Regions from separate parts of the Homo sapiens genome. Here region 1 is reported to be linked to region 2. The links are microRNA targets in miRTarBase. Many come from high-throughput screens and were not tested one by one. Region 2 holds a microRNA gene; the other region holds the end of a gene's coding sequence.
The links. Region 2 holds the annotated microRNA hsa-miR-1185-2-3p (AUAUACAGGGGGAGACUCUCAU, at 1,307-1,328, shown strand). A microRNA usually pairs through its seed, bases 2 to 8, with sites in the 3' UTR of a target mRNA and lowers its output. Matches are read on the target gene's strand: a 7mer-m8 pairs with bases 2 to 8, a 7mer-A1 pairs with bases 2 to 7 and ends in A, and an 8mer does both.

Region 1: the mRNA of STX7 is a reported target of hsa-miR-1185-2-3p. Seed matches in the 3' UTR shown: 7mer-A1 at 470-476.

What each region holds. Positions count from the first base shown.
Region 1 is chr6:132,458,134-132,461,133 of GRCh38, reverse strand. STX7 (syntaxin 7) reads left to right here. Exons shown (of 10, transcript NM_003569.3): 10 at 284-3,000. The coding sequence ends at 376. Among named protein-coding and RNA genes, the nearest start is that of STX7, 53 kb to the left of the region's middle.
Region 2 is chr14:101,042,944-101,046,472 of GRCh38, forward strand. MIR1185-2 (microRNA 1185-2) reads left to right here and starts at 1,255; the gene lies at 1,255-1,340. It overlaps MIR381HG (MIR381 host gene), which reads left to right and starts at 2,214. Exons shown (of 3, transcript NR_104192.1): 1 at 2,214-2,241. MIR381 (microRNA 381) reads left to right here and starts at 2,977; the gene lies at 2,977-3,051. MIR1185-1 (microRNA 1185-1) reads left to right here and starts at 34; the gene lies at 34-119. It also overlaps MIR487B. RefSeq lists enhancers at 2,822-3,322, 3,323-3,529.

The DNA.
Region 1 (3,000 bases), not on the chromosome of region 2:
TTCTTTCTTAAGGTCAGCCACACCCTTAGAAAAATTACCAATGAAAGTTGAAAAATTGCTCCCTTAATTGTAGCATTAGTTCAAGAATTTTTTTGAAAGAATAGTGCCATATGTATTAAAGAGATTTTTGAGGAACAAAAAAACACAGTCAAAAATTTGAGGGCAATATACTACTACTGATTTTACTCTAGAAATGAACCAAATTATTTTTAGTTGCTGTAGAGGTACTCCACTAAATCTGTAAACATGTTTTTTTGTTTTGTTTTGTTTTTTGCGTCTGCAGCGCAAATCCAGAAAAACCCTGTGCATCATCATTCTTATCCTTGTCATTGGAGTTGCGATTATCAGTCTCATCATATGGGGATTGAACCACTGAAGTTATAAAGGAGCACACTGTCGCACTACATTGTCTAAATTATGTAGGAAGATTCCTGTAATCATGTTTTTTTAATTATTATTTTAAAGCTATTGTATAAAGGATGGTTCCCATACTTTGTTATTTTTATTGGGGGGGTTGGGGTGGTTCCTTTGGATTAAATCTGATATTTTCTAATACTGAAAGATTTTCTAAATGTCACTGCTGACATAACTCCCTTGGTCTTCAATTTAATAGTTGTTAAGTTTTTGCCCACATTGCATATGCCTTTCATTTATAATTTATTTACCCTGCTTGACTTAGTTTTGGGAATTCGTAAATTTAAAGGTGTGTGTATTCTGTTTGCATCTCCCTGTCACTGTGACACACCTAGATGTGTGTTACTTCAATTAAAATTCTCAAATTTAATTTTGATTTGCTTCAGCAGGGAAAATATTCTCAATAATGTAAAATAATTAAGGTCTATACATGGGTTGTATTTTTCTGGTTCACAACAGCACAAAGTGTCTTTCATTTTTTTGTTGGTTTTCTTTTAAGATCTTTTTTACCCTGAAGTCGGTGAATACTTTTCTAGTTTATTTGATACTCTTTCTGTGTATATATTAAGCTTTTGCTGTAGATTGCCTAGTAAAATTACTAAGGATAGGTTGTTTTTACATATGGTCTATTTAAGTCTGATGTTTACGGGGGAAAGTGTAGTTACTAAAAATGTTTAACATAATTTGGAAGAAGAGTATGAACAACCAATACCAATACCTATTGCGTTTGGATTCTTAAGACCCCAGTTTGTTATTCCACTAAACTAGTTATCTTAACCATATCATCTGGTTTTGTGGGCCATTATTTACCTTCCCTTATGTCTTATAGAATAATGGTTAATATTTTTAGGTCAAAATTACTTTTGGAAAGTAACTTTCCCACAATTAACTGTTTTTGAGCACCTGACAAAATTTAGTGTTTACCTTGCGTGCCATTTTGTGTCATCCTTCATTAAAAAAGCAATTGGAGGTTTGCCAGTTATCTCACTTCCCTTTTTAAATCAATGTTGTTTTAATGCACTAATCTGAATTCTGTAAAGAGGATTATCTTAGTTTATACTTTGTATTTTATAATGTTCTTGTATAGCAGCTCGGTACTGAAGGCGGTGTTTAACTTGGCAAGCTCTGAGACTTCAAATGGGAACAAATAGTAAGTAGCTAAGTAAACCACATCTTTGCAACCAAAATAAAGATGAGTTAAAAGGTATCTGGTTAGGCCTATTTCATGAGGACTATGCTCTGGTGGGACCACAGGTCACCTGATACTTAGTGCTGTGCTGCCTGAAACCTCAGCATGGAGACATCACCACATGCACTGTGGCCATTCAGCATCTTTCTGGAGCACCAGTTCACTCCAGGTTTTTATTTTAGGGTGTCATCGATTTTACCTACTTTGTCAGACTGGTAGAAGTTGCTTTGCATATCAGAAAAACTCCATTTTTTTCCACAAAAGGGATTACAGAAAACTCTTTTGTGAGTGAGTGATTGGAACTTAGAGACTCCTGTTGCCAGAATCAGACTGCCCTAGAACAGAATGGACAATGCAGGGAGGAGAATTCACACAAACAGCACCTGTTCTGAGGCCTGTGCCAGCCCACCAGGCCTGCTCAAATGTGGTCTTTACTTCAAGTGCACAGAGGCACATGAGGTTTCTGGTGATAAACCAGCGTCTTACCGCTGTTTTAAAGTCCCATCCCCATGGCTTTCACAATCAGTTCCGTTTTTTTTGCTGTACTTGATAAAATGTTTATTCTCATACAGGTCAAGTACATTTACTTCTATTCACAGTGAGTACCCAATAACAACAAAAGCGCTTACAAATTTGGGGGGCGTGATTTTAGTACCTTTATTTGAAGTGTAATCATTTTAAATTATTATTATTTTAACTGGGGCAGTTATCAGTGGTTTAAACAGGAACTTTAGTGGCTTCAATTTGTTTAAGAAACATATTAAGTTTGAGGGAAAAATTTCCCATGAAATATTTGGAACGTAAGAGTAGTATTGATTAGAGAAAATTAAATAAGAAACATAGTATGGTAGCCAAATTTTTTAAAAAATCTTGAACTTTTCTGTAGGTCAGTTTTAGAACTGCTGTGAAAAGTGAAGGTTGCCCTGTGGAGATTAAAATTAGAGTTGTTTTCATAACTGACAGCATGGTGAATCCATTTGAGTCAAAGTGAAGAATTTCCTCATCAAGTGACTATACATTTGTTTTTGTGTGCTCAAAAGAAATACTCAAACACAGACTGATATTAACCAGCCAGGTAAATTGAACGACAATGTGGCATTAGGTATTTGGCTGTTTATTGGTCGTTAAATACTATGGTTTTGCAATATGATTGATGGTAAAAGAGTGATGTCATATTGATACTAGAGTAGCTTGTTTTTTTAGTAGGTGTGGGACCATCTCTTTTACAAGTGCAACTCAGTCTAGGACAGCCATGGATGCAGTGTCTGGAGTTGGACCCTCTGAGCCCGCTGGCTGCCCCAGTAGCATCTGCATTGGTGACCAAGGACACTGCACTTTGAAGAGGTCGCCACTGGGTTATTTAGTGTCTTCACTGCTTTTGTTAAAAATTGTAAAAT
Region 2 (3,529 bases):
CGGCATAGTCCTCACCTGCTCTTTGAGCCACTCTTTGGTACTTGAAGAGAGGATACCCTTTGTATGTTCACTTGATTAATGGCGAATATACAGGGGGAGACTCTTATTTGCGTATCAAACTCTGTCGAGGAAGACGCTCAGACCCTGCTGTCTCCAGGACAAAGCCTCGGATGTCAGCCCCTCTCAGGTACGGCTTGGCTTCCCTGTCTGGGAACGTGAGCTTGGCTGTGATCCTAGCCCTTGGGTTCTGCCTTCGCTCTCTGTGCTGGTTCTTCCTGTGGACTCCCTGGAGGCAGTGGGAGAGGAGGGTCCTTTTTGTGTGCACTGAGTTTAATGGTGGTTTGCTTTTTTTAAGGATAAATCACATGGATCTGCCTCTTCTCCATACCAAGTCATACCCAGAGGGCTTCCTGCGTCCAGCACTAACCTCGCACCTCTCCGGACACACGAATGGGTGGTGGATGGTGGAGCGCAGAGCTGATGCTGCTTCTCACCTGCTACTCCCCTGACCTGCCACTCCCTGGTGGTCTCCATCCTTGAGAGAGTGTCAGCCTTGAGGGAAGCACATGGATGTCAGGTTGTTCTAAGGCAAGTTACTGGTGGAGCTCCCTGAGCCTGCCTGTGCCCTCTGGGACTGTCGCTGGACTCCAATGGCCAGTCCTCGGAGCACATTGTCCAGTGATTGCACCTGAGTGTGCCTTGGGCAGGTGTGTCTGGTCTTCAGGACTCCTTTGTCGCTAGAGTCTGACGCTGGGGCCCTCTTTTTGTTTGTTTCGAGGTAGGTACAGGTGACACATTCTTGGATCTGGTCATCTCTAGGACAACCAGCCTCAGAGGAGAGACATTGTCTCAGCGCTCTCCAGCTCTGAGAATGCCTGCAGATGCCTTCTTCTCTGATAACTCCATGTCTTGCCGGGCTGAGCCCTCACACCCTGTGCCCCTTTGGAGAAAGGTGATGGTTCCATTGTCCATGTAGCTTGTGGGTATTTGAAGCAGGTTCACCCATGCATGCTGAGCACACTGATAGTCATGCCTACCTGTTCCCTTGTTTAGAAGCCAGTCTCGCCTGCAGGGAGTCCTGGATGTGCCACCTTTCGGGGCCAGGCCACAATGTGCAAGGTGCAGGCCCAGCTCCAGGGTCAGCCAGATGAGGCTTGTCACCGGGCCCCTCCCCCTTGGTCTCAGGCCTCGCAGGAGGAGATGTCCACTCCGGCAAAGACCCGGCATGGTCCTCACCTGCTCTTTGAGCCACCCTTTGGTACTTAAAGAGAGGATACCCTTTGTATGTTCACTTGATTAATGGCGAATATACAGGGGGAGACTCTCATTTGCGTATCAAACTGTCGGAGAAGACACTCATACCCTGCTTGTCTCCAGGACAAAGCCTCGGATGTCAGCCCCTCTCAGGTATGGCCTGGCTTCCATGTCCGGGAACGTGAGGTTGGCTGTGACGCTGCCCCTGGGTTCTGCCTTCGCCCTCTATGCTGGTTCTTCCTGTGGACTCCCTGGAAGCAGTGGGAGAGGAGGGACCTTTTTGTGTGCTCCAAGTTTAATGGTGGTTTGCTTTTTTAAGGATAAATCACACATTGATCTGCCTCTTCTTGGTACCAAGTCATACACAGAAGGCTTCCTGTTCCCAGCATCAGCCTTAGAAGGGGGACCTGGATGTTGGATCATTTCAAGGGGAACACAGACAGCAGTGATGGTGGACCACGGAGCACTGGCTCTGTCTATGCTGTTTTCGAGCCTGGTAGGCCAGCCCCAGGAGGGCTTCCTGGAGGTGGTATTGACCTTGGGGAAGGGGCTGAGGTGTGCTCATCAGCGCTTTTTTTTTTTGATGCTTGGGTGTTCATGATCCAGCTCGCAGTCCCCAGGCTGAATCTGTAAGAATGGTTTGCTTCTATTTGTCATTTGTGATTGCCCATGAAGGCAGCGCTGGGGATGAGCCGTGGGAGCTGTCAGCCCCGCACCAGGTGCGTGCATGTGGGAGGTCAGAGGGCGCCTGCTTCTGCCTCGATGTCTGTGCCCCGTCTCTGACTGCTGGCTTTCTGCTCACACCTAGGATGGCTGCCTGAGAATGGGACTCTTGTTCTGTGTTTGTGGAGACACTCCTTGGGCCGTGTGACTGCCGGCTTTTTACACCCCGACTGCCATGGGGGTCATCTGGACCCGAAGCCAGCTTCAGGAAGGACATTCGCAGCATCCTCAGCCCAAGGAAAGCGAACGTCCAGCTGAAGAGAGGTGAGCACCACGCCTGGGTAATGAGTCACATAACCTGCCACCTGGACCAGGCGGCTCCCGCTCCTCTCCCCTTCTTGAAGGAGAGACCACTGTGGGGAATGGGCTGTGGGTCTGCTTCCTCAGTTACTTGGGGGTACGTGGGGTTTACTACTGTTGACCCTGTGCTCTTTCTTAGCATGGCTTCATGGCCACGATGCCAGCCTCTGGCAGGGGTGGGGCAAGGGCTGGCATGGAGAATGACACTGGTGTCAACGGCTCTGTGAGATGGATGAAGGGATGGTGACCACAGGGCCTTTGCTTTGTCTAAGGTGTAAATTCATCCAGTGCCTGGGACCTCGGTGCTGAGTGCATCCTTAGGAAAACTTCCTGGAGAGGTGCCCACACTGGGAAGGAGATGGTGGTCCCACCCCAGGGAATTCCTATAGAAAGTGAGAAGCTGAGCTCTGCGTGTGCCCAGGAAGGCCCGTGGGGTGGATCTCCTTTTCAGGAACAAGTTCTAATCTGGAGTGATGCCTGGAAAAGAGGCTGATTCTGGTGAAGGGGCACTGGCGTCTGCCCCTTCCTGGCCCCTTTGGGATGGAGAGCTGACCTATGGGCACACAGCTGGCAGGTGGTGTTTGCCACCTGGTCTGCTGATCCCGCATCTCCCACCCCCTCCCCCGCCAGGATGAACCCCGGGAGAGGAGGCCGGCCCCGTGAATGATAGTGAGGAACCTGCCCAGTGCTATTGTTTGGTACTTAAAGCGAGGTTGCCCTTTGTATATTCGGTTTATTGACATGGAATATACAAGGGCAAGCTCTCTGTGAGTATCAAACCTTGTCTTGGACCCAGTCCACACTCAGCAAGGGATGCGGTATGTGTGTGCATGACCGTGTGTATCCGTTTTGTGTGTGGCAAATCGTTCACGGGTCCCCACTTCACAGAGAGGACTTCACGGGCACCTGGATGACTTTAGGGAAGGCAGTGGCCTCTGGGACATCCCCTCTCCTGGTGCAGTGTGGGCGGGGCCAAAAGCATGCACGATGTGTGTGGTCTGGGTCCCTGCTTCCTGAGCGGGAAGTCATCAGCCCGGGCCGATGGCTGGGGTGGCGCTCGTGTGGGGTAGTGGCTTTGTGGTCCCTGCTGTTACTCGGTCCGTGAGTGTGCATGTTCTGCTTGGGGTATGTGACCCGGTCCACTAACCCTCAGCATCTAATTCATCCCCAGGACCGCGCCTTGAAGACGTACCAAGTCCACCCAAGGCAGTGGCTTTCTTTTCCGTGCTAACCTTTGGTACTTGGAGAGTGG